Linked DNA regions of Homo sapiens. The protein of the gene in region 1 purifies or fractionates together with the protein of each later gene. This does not show direct contact. Each region holds a gene or a part of one and is shown on either strand. Other genes may lie near its edges.

Region 1 (7,424 bases):
CTCAGTCCTTCCCTTCCATCTCATTTTTCCTAATCCTTCCTGTTCCCAAGGTAACAATCACTTCTTCGGGAAGGGTTTTTTTTTTTTTTTTTTTTTGAGTCTGAGTCTCGCTGTCGCCCAGGCTAGAGTGTAGCAGCATGATCTCGACTCACTGCAACCTCCGCCTCCTGGGTTCAAACGATTCTCCTGCCTCAGCCTCCCGAGTAGCTGGGATTACAGGCGCCTGCCACCATACCCGGCTAATTTATGTATTTTTAGTAGAGACGGGGGTTTCACCATGTTGGCCAGGCTGGTCTCGAACTCCTGACCTCAGGTGATCCGCCCCCACCTTGGCCTCTCAAGGTGCTAGGATTACAGGTGTGAGCTACCATGCCAGGCATGTTCCTTCATCACAATCTCCCATAGTGCCCTGTACTTCCTGAATCAGCATTATCTTAGGCAACCTCTGAAGGTCTACATAGATTCTCTCATTCACTCCTTACAACAAAGGTGTTGATTCCTATTTTACAGATAAAGAAGCAGGCACAGAGAGGTCTAGTAATTTGGCCCAGTCTGGCTCCAGGGCCCACACTCTTAACCACAAGGGTGTATTTGCCTCATGCTGCTTTTGGGACTCTTGGTTAAACATATGTCCTCACTTCTATTTGAAGTCCAGTAAGGGTAGTGAGTATATCTAACTTAATCACCACTGAATTCCTAGCTGGCAGCAGGGGGGTACTGCAGAGAAAGCTGCCCTGTTAACGTGTGTTAAGAACCAGGTGTGGTGGCTCACACCTATAATCCCAGTGCTTTTGGGAGGCCAAGGCAGGAGGATCACTTGAGGCCAGGAGTTTGAAGTTACAGTAAGCTATGATCACATCATTGTACTCCAGCCTGGGTGACAGGGCAAGGCCCTGTCTCTGTAACAACAACAACAAAAAAAAAACAGAAGTGGGCCTGGCTCAGTGGCTCACACCTGTAATCCCAGCACTTTGGGAGGCCAAGGTGGGAGAATGGCTTGAGCCTGGGAATTTGAGGCTGCAGTGAGCTGTTTGTGCCACTGCACTCCAGCTTGAGTGACAGAGCAAGACCCTGTCTCCCCCAACAACAACAACAAAATCCTCACACCCTCCTTTTTAATGGTACAAATAAATTTATTACTACTTGTATTTTTTAAGTTGGATTTTTTTCATTACATGGCTTTGTCTATTACCTATAGTTTACATAGAGTACAACGCAAAGATAGTAGGTATAAAATTTCATGAGTTTTGATAATTGTATACACGTATAATCACTGCTTCAATCAAGATATAGAGCATTTTTGGCTGGTGTGGTGGCTCATGCCTGTAATCCCAGCACTTTGGGAGGCCGAGGCAGGCGGATCACTTGAGGTCAGGAGTTTGAGACCAATGTGGCCAATGTGGTGAAACCCTGTGTCTACTAAAAATGCAAAAAATTAGCCAGGCCTGGTAGCGGGCGCCTATAGTCCCAGCTACTCAGGAGGCTGAGACAGGAGAATCGCTTGAACTTGGGAGGTGGAGGCTGCAATGAGCTGAGATTGCGCCACTGCACTCCAGCCTTGGAAATAGAGCAAGACTCCGTCTCAAAAAAAAAAAAAAAAAAAAAGATACAGAGCATTTTCATCATCCCTGAAGTTCCCTTGTACCCCTTCCCAGTCAATCCTACTCACTCTATCTCATCCCCAGGCAACCACTGTTCTGATTTCTATCTCTATAGATTAGATATACCTGTTTTGGGCTTATATGAATGGAATCATGCAATATGTACTCTTTTTGCACCTGGGTTCTTTCATGCAATATAATGTCTATGAGATGTCAAATCTCTCCACTTGATCTTGGCCAAGAGAGCGAGACGCGATGAGATGTCAAATCTCTCATCCATGTTATTGCATGTATTTCATTCCTTTTTATTATTATTTTTTGAGACAGAGTCTTGCTCTGTCACCCAGGCTGGAGTGCAGTGGGGCAATCTTGGCTCCCGCAACCTCCGCCTACCGAGTTCAAGCGATTCTCCTGCCTCAGCCTCTCCCGAGTAGCTGGGATTACAGGCGCACCCCACCACACCTGGCTAATTTTTTTTTTTTTTTTTTTTGAGACCGGGTCTCCCTCTGTTGCCCAGGCTGGAGTGCAGTGGCGCGATCTCAGCTCACTGCAAGCTCTGCCTCCTGGGTTCACACCATTCTCCTGCCTCAGCCTCCCGAGTAGCTGGGACGATAGGCACCCGCCACCACGCCCAGCTAATTTTGTTTTTGTATTTTTAGTAGAGACAGGGTTTCACTGTGTTAGCCAGGCTGGTCTCGATCTCCTGACCTCAGGTGATCCACCTGCCTTGGCCTCCCAAAGTGCTGGGATTATAGGCATGAGCCACTGCGCCCGGCCCTAATTTTTGTATTTTTAGTAGAGGTGAGGTTTCGCCATGTTGGCCAGGCTGGTCTCGAACTCCTGACCTCAGGTGATCCACCAGCCTTGGCCTCCCAAAGTGCTAGGGTTATAGGCGTGAGCCACCGCCCCCGGCCCTTTTTTTGATTTTTAATCAACATTATTGAAAGGTATAATTTATATACCATGATATTTTAAATGCACAAGTTCTCACACAAAAATTAGCCAGGGGTGGTGGCGAAGTGCTATATTCCCAGCTGCTGGGGAGCTGAGGTGCGAGGATCACTTGAGTCTGGGAGATCAAGGCTGCAGTGAGCTGTGAACGTGCCACTGCATTCCAGCCTAGGTGACAGAGCAAGACCCTGTCACAAAAAACAAACAAAAACAGTTATTCTTCCTTGGGAACTGCTTATAAAAAAGAAAAAGCAGGTCAGCACTGTGGCTCACACCTGTAATCCCAGCACTTTGGGCGGCCCAGGCAGGCAGATCCTTGAGCTCAGGAGTTCAAGGCCAGCCTAGCCAACGTGGTGAAACTCCATCTCTACTAAAAATACAAACATTATCTGGGCGTGGTGGCGTGTGCCTGTAATCCCAGCTACTTGGGAGGCTGAGGCAGGAGAACCGCTTGAATCCAGGAAGCAGAGGTTGCAGTGAGCCAAGACCCGGCCACTGCACTCCAGCCTGGGTGATATCTGTAAATAATGGTTCCATGAGTTTAGAAATACAAAGTAGCATGACTTAACAAATTTACACATCTATGTAACCAGGTCCCAATCAAGATACAGAATAATTCTATCACCCAGGAAGTTCTCTTGTGTCTGGACCAAACATCCTTCTCCACAGGTAAGCTCTGTTAGTTTTTATCAGCATAGATTTTATTTGTCCTATTCTTGAATCTCATATAAATAGATTATACATTATGTATTTGGTGGTCCTTCAACATAATGGCCAGGTGTGGTGGCTCATGCCTGTAATCCCAACACTTTGAGAGGCCAAGGCAGGAGGATCTCTGGAGTTAGCAGGAGATCAAAAGCAGCCTGAGCAATATAATGAAGACTTCCGTCTCTGCAAAAAGTTTAAAAACTAGCCAGGAGTGGTGGTGCGGGCCTGTGGGCCCAGCTACCTGGGAGGCTGAGGTGGGAGGTCAAGGGTGCAGTGAGCCGAGATCACACCACTGCATTCCAGCCTGGGCGACACAATGAGACCCTGACTCAAAAAAGAAACGAAAAAACGCATTGTGTGTTGTGTTTATTGGATGGTGGAATTATGGGGTTTACGGGTCTTCTGTTGCGTTTTGGTTTTTGTTTTCTTACCTGTTATCGCGTTCCTAACAGTAGAAATTGGCATCATATAGTATTCTCATGGAACTTTCCTTTGTTCAAAGCCCTACAGTTCAGAGACTTACACATTTAATGTGAGATATGACAGGCTTAAAAAGAAACGTTGGGGGCCGGGCGCGGTGGCTCACGCCTGTAATCCCAACACTTTGGGAGGCTGAGGCGGGAGGATCACAAGGTCAGCAGTTCGAGATCAGCCTGGCCAACATGGTGAAACCCCATCTCTACTAAAAATACAAAAATTAGCCGGGCGTGGTGGCGGGCACCTGTAATCCCAGCTACTCGGGAGGCTGAGGTAGAATAGCTTGAACACGGAGGCGGAGGTTGCAGTGAGTCGAGATCCCGCCACGGCACTCCAGCCTGGGACAGAGCGAGACTCCGTCTCGAAAAAAAATAATAAAATAAATAATAAAATAAATAAAATAAAATAAACGTTGGCTTATTTCAGTGTGAAGTAAGGCAATAAACGGAGGGCTAACAGTTCCACTTCGTAGAGCTCAGACATTTTAAGAAGCGAGGAGGCCGCGTCCTGGAAGGGTGAGCAAAAAGCGCGAGGTTTGCGCACGAAGGGAAAGGCGAGGCCCGAGGAGAGACCTGGCGCCGCGCAGAATGATGATGTCGCACGCTGGGTGGGAACTGACGTCACCTGTGCTCACCGCCGCTTCCGGTCCGCGTGAGGTGCATTCTCGCGCCGGTGGCGAGGTTAGGGCCCGCGTTGCGACGTGGTGCAGCGCATATTTTCACAAGTGGGTCTCCCTTGTCCGGGACTATGGCCACCGACTCGTGGGCCCTGGCGGTGGACGAGCAGGAAGCGGCTGTCAAGTCGGTCAGTAGCTCAGCTCCTGGCGAGGAGGACGTAGCAGGGGCCCAAGCGAAACCTCCCAAAAGCACAGGGAGCTCCCCGGGTTGGGGAGGCCCCTGGGCAACGCGCTCCTGCAGTTTGCTAGGGCAGTCACTTGCCCTTGATTTGCTCTTAGAGCTAAAGAGACCAATGTCGAGCTTTTTATCTCCATCTGGGCTGGTTAAGGACTTCATCCTTTGGTAAATCCGCCCCACTATGCATGCTGTCATTCCTCTATTGACCTCCTCGGTGACGATTATAAGGAAAGCCAAGTTTAGATTCTGATTCTCTTTTTCATTACGCGACTGTTCTTCGCATGTTTCTGTACTACTCTGTATTTAACATTTCTTAGATCCATGCTTAACGTGGTTGGTAGTTTGTAGCTCTTTGCAGAATAACAGATTGACTTTTGGATTTAATACCTCAATCTACTGCAGATGTTGGAAGGAGGCACTACAAATTGTTTCATTGATGTGTAAAGTAACGGTTTCATGTACTTGTTCTTTCAGTAATGAATATTCATTCAACTGGAATGTAATTACAGCATACACTGTGGCTTTCTGTTCTTATATCTAAGACCTAAACTTTAGGTTTGTTTAGTGATAATGGACTGTCTTTTTTTTTGTTGTAGTTGTTTCTCTTTTGAGGCAGAGTTTTGCTCTTGTTGCCCAGGCTGGAGTGCAATGGCGCCATCTCGGCTCACCGCAACCTCCGCCTCCCGGGTTCAAGCGATTCTCCTGCCTCAGTCTCCCGAGTAGCTGGGATTACAGGCATGCGCCACCACGCCCGGCTAATTTTGTATTTTTTGTAGAGACGGGGTTTCTCCATGTTGGTCAGGCTGGTCTCGAACTCCCGACCTCAAGTGATCCGCCCACCTCGGCCTCCCAAAGTGCTGGGATTACAGCCGTGAGTCACCGCGCCCAGCCGGTATGGGGATTTTTGAGAGGGCTATTGACAGAATTAGACAAGGCTGGCAAGGATTTATTGAACTACAGAGAACAGAATATGTTAGAAGTGATGGCTAATAGAAATATCAGTGTAGAAGTTATTCTGATAGCCCCGAGATAGAGGGCCTATGTTGGGCAGTGGAAGTGAAAATTAAGGGATGGGTATAAGATATGAAGGTAGAATGGGTAGGACTTGCTAACATAATAAAGGAGAGAAGGGAGATAAAGCCAAAGGTTTCTGTTTTCAACCTGGATCCTATTGGTACTACTAACGTCCCAATAACAGGAATAGGAAAGTGGGAGGAAGGGCAGATTTGATAGAATGGTGAAGGCAGCCGGGCATGATGGCACCCACCTGTGATCCCAGCACTTTGGGAGGCCGAGGCGGGCAGATCACTCGAGGTCAAGAGTTTGATACCAGCCTGGCCAACATAGTGAAACCCTGTCTCTACTAAAAATACAAAAGTTAGCCAGGCGTGGTAGTCGTCCCCTGTTAATACCAGCTACTCAGGAGGCTGAGGCATGAGAATTGCTTGAACCTGGGAGGTGGAGGTTGCAGTGAGCCAAAATTACGCCACTGCACTCCAGCCTGGGCTACTGAGTGAGACTCTGTCTCAAAAAAAAAAAAAAAAAAAAAAAGAGGTGAAGGCTGGGCACAGTGGCTCACACCTGTAATCCTAGCACTTTGGGAAACTGAGACAGGCAGATCAGTTGAACCCAGGAGTTCAAGACCAGTGTGGGCAACATGGCGAAACCCCATTTCTACAAAAATACAAAAAAAATTAGCTGGGCGGGGTGGTGGTACACTCCTGTAGTCCCAGTTACTCAGGATGCTGAGGTGGGAGGATCACCTGAGCCTAGGGAGGTTGAGGCTGCAGTGAGCTGTGATCACACCACTGCACTCCAGCATGGGTGACGGTGAGACCCTGTTTCAAAAAAAGAAAAAAGGGAATGGTGAGTTCAGGTTTGGCTGTTCTGAATTTAAAATAAGGAAACATCTTGGTAAGTACCTGTTGTGGGAGTCCCCAAGAGATGCCAGGTTTGACGATTTGTTAGGAGAACTCACAGGCTCAGTATGTAGTTGTACTCACAACTATGATTTATTATAGTGAAAAGATACAAAGCAAAATTAGTGGAGGAAAAAGGCTCATGGGCTAAGTCCAGAGGAAACCAGGCAAACTTCCAAGTTATCTCCCAATGGAGTCCACAGAGTGTGCTTCATTCTTCCGGTAGCAAATTGTAACAGCACATATGAAGTGGTGTCAGGGAAGCTTGTTAGAGACTCTACTTGAGGCTTTTATTGGGGGGCTGTCATATAGTCACCCTGTGCCTAGCATGTACCAGAATTCCAGACTTCCAGAAGGAATGCAGGTGGTTAGCATAAATTACATGCAACTGTTTTTAAAAAGAGTTGAGGCAGACTGACCCCCTCTTATCAGTTCTAGGAATGATGGGAACCTTCCCAAAGTCCAAGTTCGCAGGTGACAGCCAAGGGCCAGCCTTGCAAATAGGCTTTCCTAAGGAGAGCGGTCAGGCCTGCTGTGTTCTCTTCTGCCCGGTAGCCATCAGACATTTGGAAATACAGCACTGGAGTTCAGGAGAAGGAGCAGGTCAGAGGTATAAAACTGGCAGTTTCCACAAAGAAATTACAAAGCATTATCAAGGGCATGGTCCTTGCACTCTGGAGTTTAAAATCTAGCGTTTAGCATCAGATCTTCTCTGAAAGAGTTACTGAGAATTGGTTTCAAACCTTGTGAAATCTGTGATCCTAACCTAGCTGTGACATGAATATCACAAATATAGGCCTAAACATACTTGGTATCTGGTTCTAAGCATCCAGCTTATCAGAAGGCTGGTATAAATAAAGGCTTCCTAATAGTTGGAGAAGACCTTTTTTTTCACCATGTAGACTTGTGTACCT
Region 2 (7,032 bases), on another chromosome or scaffold:
TCAGTGGAAAAAATGCTTTTGATTTATTTAGGGTCTGGTATATATTTTTCATGTCAGTTTACCTAATATGCATGAAAGTGTTTTAACATCTATGTATGTCTTTACAGAAGTTAGTTGTAGCTGGTTCCATATCTATTGTATAAAGAAGTATTAACAGAATAGGTTTGCTTGCATTATTATACTTTCATCAATGTGACAGTTTACTTGGATTTTTGTTTTCAGAAAGTGGTATTTTCATACTTGTATCTAAGTATTACGTTGCATTAGACAAAGTGTCTTCCATGAAGATAAACTGCCATCTTAGCTAATTTGGAACAACCAAGTCCTATTAATATAAATAGAAAATATTGACACAAAGAATTCTTTTCTTATTTAGTTGGTTATTTAATTTAAAGATTAATATTTTTACCTTATGGAAAGTTTGGAAAATAGAAAAAAAAATTATTCATTTTTGAGACAGGGGTCTCACTCTGTTGTGCAGGCTGGAGTGTAGTGGCAGGATCTTGGCTCACTGCAGCCTCTGTCTCCCAAGTCCAAGCGATCCTCCCACCTCAGCCTCCCAAGTAGCTGGGACTACAGGCACAAGCCATCACACCTGGCTGATTTTTGTATTTTTTTTGTAGCAACAGGGTCTCACTTTGTTCCCCAGGCTGGTCTCAAACTCCTGGACTCAAAGGGTCCTCCTGCTTTGCCCTCCCAAAGCTCTGGGATTACAGGCATGAGCCACTGCGCCCAGCCTTCCATTGACTTTTTTTTTTCTTTTTAACCATTTGGATTGCATTAAATATCTTTTTCATTTTTTGCATTATGTTTGTAAGCTTTATTCTTAGAAGAGAAATTACTGGGTCTGTTTTTTACAGTTTTTTATACAATGCCAAAATGTTTTCTTAAAAAAAATACTAGTTACCTACCAGTGATAAAAAGTTTCAGGTTTGTTTTACCCATCCAAACATAAGGGGTTAGACATATTTAAATTCTTATAATTTAGAGGACAAATTAAAAATGTACCTTGTTTATATTTCTTTGATTAGAGAGATTGAATGTGTTTTCTTTATGTGAGTTAGTTTCCCTGTTTATTAGTCCTGAAATTTTAAAATCTCAATTTGTATGAGCTTTTTAAAAAATAGAAAACATCTTATTTGTCATTTGCTATGGATCTTTTTTTTTAGTTCATTACCATTTAGTTATTGTACCTGAGTAGCTATTTTTTACACAAATCTTAACCTTCTCCCTTTGCGATTGTTTTTTTTTTGGTCACTTCTAAATTTATCAAGGTGTTAGATTCTGAGACCTAACATATCTATCAATTTGCCTCCTTTGTTTTGAGATACCTGTATTTATGTGACTTTCTATGTGTATTTATCTGGAATTACTTTTAGTGAAATAAGGTGGAGGTCTGAATTAAAACTTTTTCCTGGTTGTTAATGAAATGTTGCAGTGACTGAACTGTTTTGTGTGCCATAGTAGCACTGAGAAGTCCATGAAGTCCAATTATTCTAATGTCTTTCCTTAGTTTTCCTTCAGTTTCATTTATCTCATGAGACCTGAAAACTCCAACATGAACTGTGTACCCATGTGTTCTTTTTGCTTCTTAAACTAGTAACATTTCTGGCTTTATTCTACCACAAATTCTTTTTCACTTGCTTTCTATTATGTGAACCTCCACTGTTACAGTGTTAACATTTTCCTTCCTTTTTTTGTCACTGCAGGAAGTACTCCCACTACCCCAACCTCCTCTCAAGCCCCACAGAAACTGGATGCTTCTGCAGCTGCAGCCCCTGCCTCTCTGCCACCTTCATCACCTGCTGCTCCCATTGCCACTTTTTCTTTGCTTCCTGCTGGTGGAGCCCCCACTGTGTTCTCCTTTGGTTCTTCATCTTTGAAGTCATCTGCTACGGTCACTGGGGAGCCCCCTTCATATTCCAGTGGCTCCGACAGCTCCAAAGCAGCCCCAGGCCCTGGCCCATCAACCTTCTCTTTTGTTCCCCCTTCTAAAGCCTCCCTAGCCCCCACCCCTGCAGCGTCTCCTGTGGCTCCATCAGCTGCTTCATTCTCCTTTGGATCATCTGGTTTTAAGCCTACCCTGGAAAGCACACCAGTGCCAAGTGTGTCTGCTCCAAATATAGCAATGAAGCCCTCCTTCCCACCCTCAACCTCTGCTGTCAAAGTCAACCTTAGTGAAAAGTAAGTCACTTCTAAAGTTTGATTCTTCTGTGAGTTGGGTAGAAATATTGGATGTTATTTACTAAAAGTAGAGTCACTCTGAGAGGAGTTAACTGAGTAGAATTTTTTTACCCAGAGTGATACTTGCAAATGGCAAAAATTCAACCAACATAAAATACTGGCATTTCATCAGTGAATAGAGTCCAGAAGGGTCTCTTAGCTAGCATTTTATTTTTTTGACTATGGGATTTATATTCAGGTATTTGTTTTGCTTTTTTACGTTACAAATGTAGGAAATATTCCTTATTTTAAAAAAAGAAGCAATCCAGAGTATGCATCCTGGAAGGGAAATGAATCCCTTGTAGTCTTTTTTCCTCCCTGTGTCTACCCTTAACTCTCTCTGAACTGCTGTCTACACAGCCACAAAGTCATCTTGTGACACTGTAAATTGTTAGGTGATTCTTCTGCTTGACAGTCCCTATGAAGCCCCGTGGCTGCTCACTGCTAATTCTTAGGTTGGTATCCAGTTTCCTCCAGATCTGGGTCGGGCAGCTCACTCATTTCTTATTTATTTACTTCTTTATCTTGTTCTTTTCTTCCCACTAGAATGTAAGCTTTTGGAGGGAAGCAATCCCTTATATCTTGTAACCCCTCCCAAGATAACCATGAGTTCCCAAGATAACCATCGAGTATAAGTACTACCAGCTTTTTCCCTACTTGCCTGTACTATCTGTTGTTGCTATGGTGGTGCTGCTGCCACCACAGTTACTGTTAATACTGAATTGGCACACATCCACTTCATGCTAAGGGTTGCATAGTGTTCCATTTTGTTGACTGCACCACAGTTTATCTGACCAGTCATCTAATGCTGGAGTTTAGATTGTCTACAGACTTTTGCTCTTTAGGTGGAACCGACTTTACATTTCCTTTAGGCCATAAGTATCCCAAAGACAGTTCCCTGCATTCCTCTTCCTTTTTCACTCCCCAGAGAAGGTGCTCACTCTCAAAACGAGTTCTCAGTAATTTCCTTGGTAAGAGAAAGTACTAACTCTCCTAAGCATAATTGTGTCCCACCTCCTGTTTAAAACTCAGCTGGAAACAATAGTATTTCATATCATGATAAACTTGGTATTTCATATTGTGATAAACTTAGTTTTGATATTTCCCCTGAATAATTAATTCCTAAATAAGCAGACGAAAAGATAAATGTTTCCTTGCAGCTTTCACCTTTTATAAGAAATAGCTAAACATTTTTGTTTCCTGAAGGCAAAAAGTATGTTATCTTTGTAAGTTAACATAAAAGATAATAAGTTATCTTTTGATGACATTGCTCATGCTAGTGTAAAAGAATCTTCTAGCAGGCTCTTCTGAGGCCTTCAGGCTGCCATTTTTCAGGTTTACTGCTGCAGCTACCTCTACTCCTGTTAGTAGCTCCCAGAGCGCACCCCCGATGTCGCCATTCTCTTCTGCCTCCAAGCCAGCTGCTTCTGGACCACTCAGCCACCCCACACCTCTCTCAGCACCACCTAGTTCCGTGCCATTGAAGTCCTCAGTCTTGCCCTCACCATCAGGTATGATTTTAAGCAGACAACTTTAGACCTCAGCCCTGCCTTCTCAGATTAACGGTTTTAAGTGTTAAGAGTCGTAGCTAACATAGTTGGACAAGGTTATTTTTTCTTGCTTCCTGTATCATACATTAATGATTAATGTGCTGTGATTTTCATACTCTGAATTGGGAGATTTGCTCTTGCTTAAATGCTGCCACTCTTCTCTCTGACACTTCTTATGGAGCTAAGTGTATTTAATGAGTCAAAAATGCCTTGCTCTTGGGCATTTATTTTCATATGGAGCCTGCCCTCCATGAAGAGCAGTTACATAACAGTTCTTTAAGAAGCACAGGCACAAGAGTTGTTTGGCGGGGTGCGGTGGCTCACGCCTATAAACCCAGCACTTTGGGAGGCCAAGGCAGGTGGATCACCGGAGGTTAGGAGTTCGAGACCAGCCTGGCCAACATGGCAAAACCCCATCTCTACTAAAAATACAAAAATTAGCCAGGTGTGGTGGTGGGTGCCTGTAATCCCAGCTACTCAGGAGGCTGAGGCGGGAGAATCACTTGAACCTAGGAGGCAGAGATTGCAGGGAGTCGAGATCACGCCACTGCTCTCCAGCCTGGCGACAGAGCGAGACTCTGTCTCAAAAAAAAAAAAAAGTACAGAGGAGAGAGTACCTGCAGTGATTATATTCATATTTTCACAGTCAGTCATACTGTAAACAGGAAGTTTTGTTTTGTTTTTTGAGACCCTCTCACTCTCTCACCCAAGCACATCACTGCAGCCTCTACCTCCTGGGCTCAAGCGATCTTCCCACCTTAGCCTCCTGAGTAGCTGGGACTACAGGCATGTACCACCACCGTCGGCTAATTTTTAAATTTTTTTGTAGAGACAAAGTCTTGCCATGTTGCTCAGGCTGGTCTCAAACTCCTGGGCTCAAGCAATCCTCCTGCCTCAGCCTCCCAAAAGGCTAGGATTACAGGTTTGAGCCACCATACCTGGCTCCTAAAATTTTAATATATTTTTTTCATTATCTTAGAACAGAGGCTAGCACAACTGGTGGTCATCACTCTTTAAAATAAATCATGAAAGTGGGCCAGGGGCAATGTGTAACTTAATTTCTTAGATTTGGAGAAAGGACATTTGTGATAGGAGAAATAAAGGTAATAAATGCCATCTATTTTAACTGACTTCTTTTTCAAGCAGGACGATCTGCTCAGGGCAGTTCAAGCCCAGTGCCCTCAATGGTACAGAAATCACCCAGGATAACCCCTCCAGCGGCAAAGCCAGGCTCTCCCCAGGTATGTTTAAATTCAGCTTGCAATGTTTGTGTTTATTAATTTACTGCCCCAAGCATACCTATGAATAAAATGAGTTTTCATGTTTTATAATTCAGACCTTGGACATAGTAATTGGGACTATGTGATAGTAAATACCAAAGTGCGAGGTTTGAATACTTGTATACTCGTAAAAGCCATTTAGCTATTTTAATTTTTTATTCATGTATAATACAAATAGAAAAAAGTACACATGATACATGTACAGCTCAGTGAATTGTCAACAACTGAACATACCTTGGTAACTAGCATCCAGATCAAGAAACAGAATTTTACGAGAACCTGGCTGGGCACAGTGGGTCATGCCTGTAATCCCAGCACTTTGGGAGGCCAAGGCGGGCGGATCACCTGAGGCCAGTAGTTCGAGACTAGCCTGGTCGACATGGTGAAACCCCGTCTCTACTAAAAACGCAAAAATTAGCCGGGCGTGGTGGCACGTACTTGTAGTCCCAGCTCCTGAGGAGGCTGAGGCATGAGAATCACTTGAACCCGGGAGGCGGAGGCCAGAACCCCAGAGTTCTTTTTCACCTGTCCCCTTCTAGTCACTACTCTTGCCAAAGAGTAGCTGATTTGATTTCCAACAGCATAGATGAGGTTAGCCTGCCTGTACCTCCTATCAAGTGGATTTGTACAGTATGTATTCTTGTATCTGGCTGCTTTGTTCAACATTATGTTTGTGAGATTTATCCATGTCGTTGTATGGAATTTATTGTGTGATTATATTACAACTATTTGTTCCACTCTGATGGGCGCTTGAGTAGTTTCCAGGTTTAAGCCATTGTATGTAGCACTGCTATGACCGTTCCAGTTGACATCTTCAATGAACACATATGCAAGTTTCTCTTGGGTGTATCCCTATGAGTGAGATTGCTGGGTCATAGAATCTGCATGTATTCCTCATTAGTAGATTCCCACCAAGAGTGTATGAGACTTCTGGCTGCTCCACATACTTGCCACTCTTGGTATTTTTCATCTTTTGTTGTATGGTTTTGTGGTTTTAATTTGTATTTCTCTAATGATTAGCAAAATTAAGCTTTTTAAAAGATGATTATTGGCCATTTGAATATTTTCTTTTATGTTGTGTCTGTTCATGTCTTTATTCTGTTTTTCTGTTGGATTGTCTGGCTTTTTCCTTCTGATTTTTAAGAGTGAGTTCCTTGAATACACACACACACGCACACACATACAGTGCAAATATGTTCTCACTGTGAATTGTCTATTCATTGTCTTTTTTGTTTCTTTGATGAATACACATTCTTCATTTTAATATAATTAAGTATATCAGTTTTTTCTTTTATGATTAATGCTTTTCATGTTTTAGAAATAATTTTCTATTTCAAGGTCAAAAAGATGTTTTTCTAAAAGCTTTATTATTTTATCTTTCATATTTAGATTTGTAGTCCATCATCTCAGTTTATTTTTATGGTATAATGTAAAGAGAATTGTATGTCAGTTTCCCACGTGATTACTTGAGTGCCCTGAGAATAAGCGTTATGTCTTTTCCTTTCTGTGTCCCTCTAACCAACCCTTGTACCCTAACACACACCTGTACTAGGTACATAGTAAGTGCCCAGGTCACAGTTCACGGTGTGGCATGATGCATGACATACAGTGTTTGTCAAATAAATGTTTGCTGTTAATGAATGCTGATGCAGTCTAAGACCTCTCTAGTGTTAATCGTTGTAAGTATCAAATAGTCTAAAGGGCATTTCAAATTATAGTATCTTTAAAGCAGAACTCTTGATTTCTGTCTCCCCTAGAGGCTAGTCCTTTTCCAATGGGTAAGTAGCACTAACAAACCAGATGTTTGCACAAGCCCCAAGCCCCGAAGCATCCTAGATCCCTCTCTTTAACAGTACCTGTCCCCAGTCCAGGCTGGCGGGAGGTCTTGTCAGCTCCACCCTCTGCTGTGTCACATGTCATAAGCCCACAGCTCTGTCCCCCTGCTAGCATCCTGTGTCAAGCTGTTGCACCTCTCACCT

Evidence for each region.
Region 2: the proteins of DDX19A (region 1) and NUP214 purify together in Homo sapiens (affinity purification with mass spectrometry; 3 studies listed by BioGRID and IntAct, with this or other methods). This does not show direct contact.

What each region holds. Positions count from the first base shown.
Region 1 is NC_000016.10:70,342,508-70,349,931, forward strand, and holds the start of DDX19A (ATP-dependent RNA helicase DDX19A), read left to right. Parts: upstream 1-4,395; 5' UTR 4,396-4,484; coding exon 4,485-4,541; intron 4,542-7,424. UniProt on the Homo sapiens protein: ATP-dependent RNA helicase involved in mRNA export from the nucleus.
Region 2 is NC_000009.12:131,142,571-131,149,602, forward strand, and holds part of NUP214 (nuclear pore complex protein Nup214), read left to right. Parts: intron 1-1,709; coding exon 1,710-2,184; intron 2,185-3,558; coding exon 3,559-3,734; intron 3,735-4,916; coding exon of another isoform or gene 4,917-4,919; coding exon 4,920-5,014; intron 5,015-7,032. UniProt on the Homo sapiens protein: Part of the nuclear pore complex. Has a critical role in nucleocytoplasmic transport.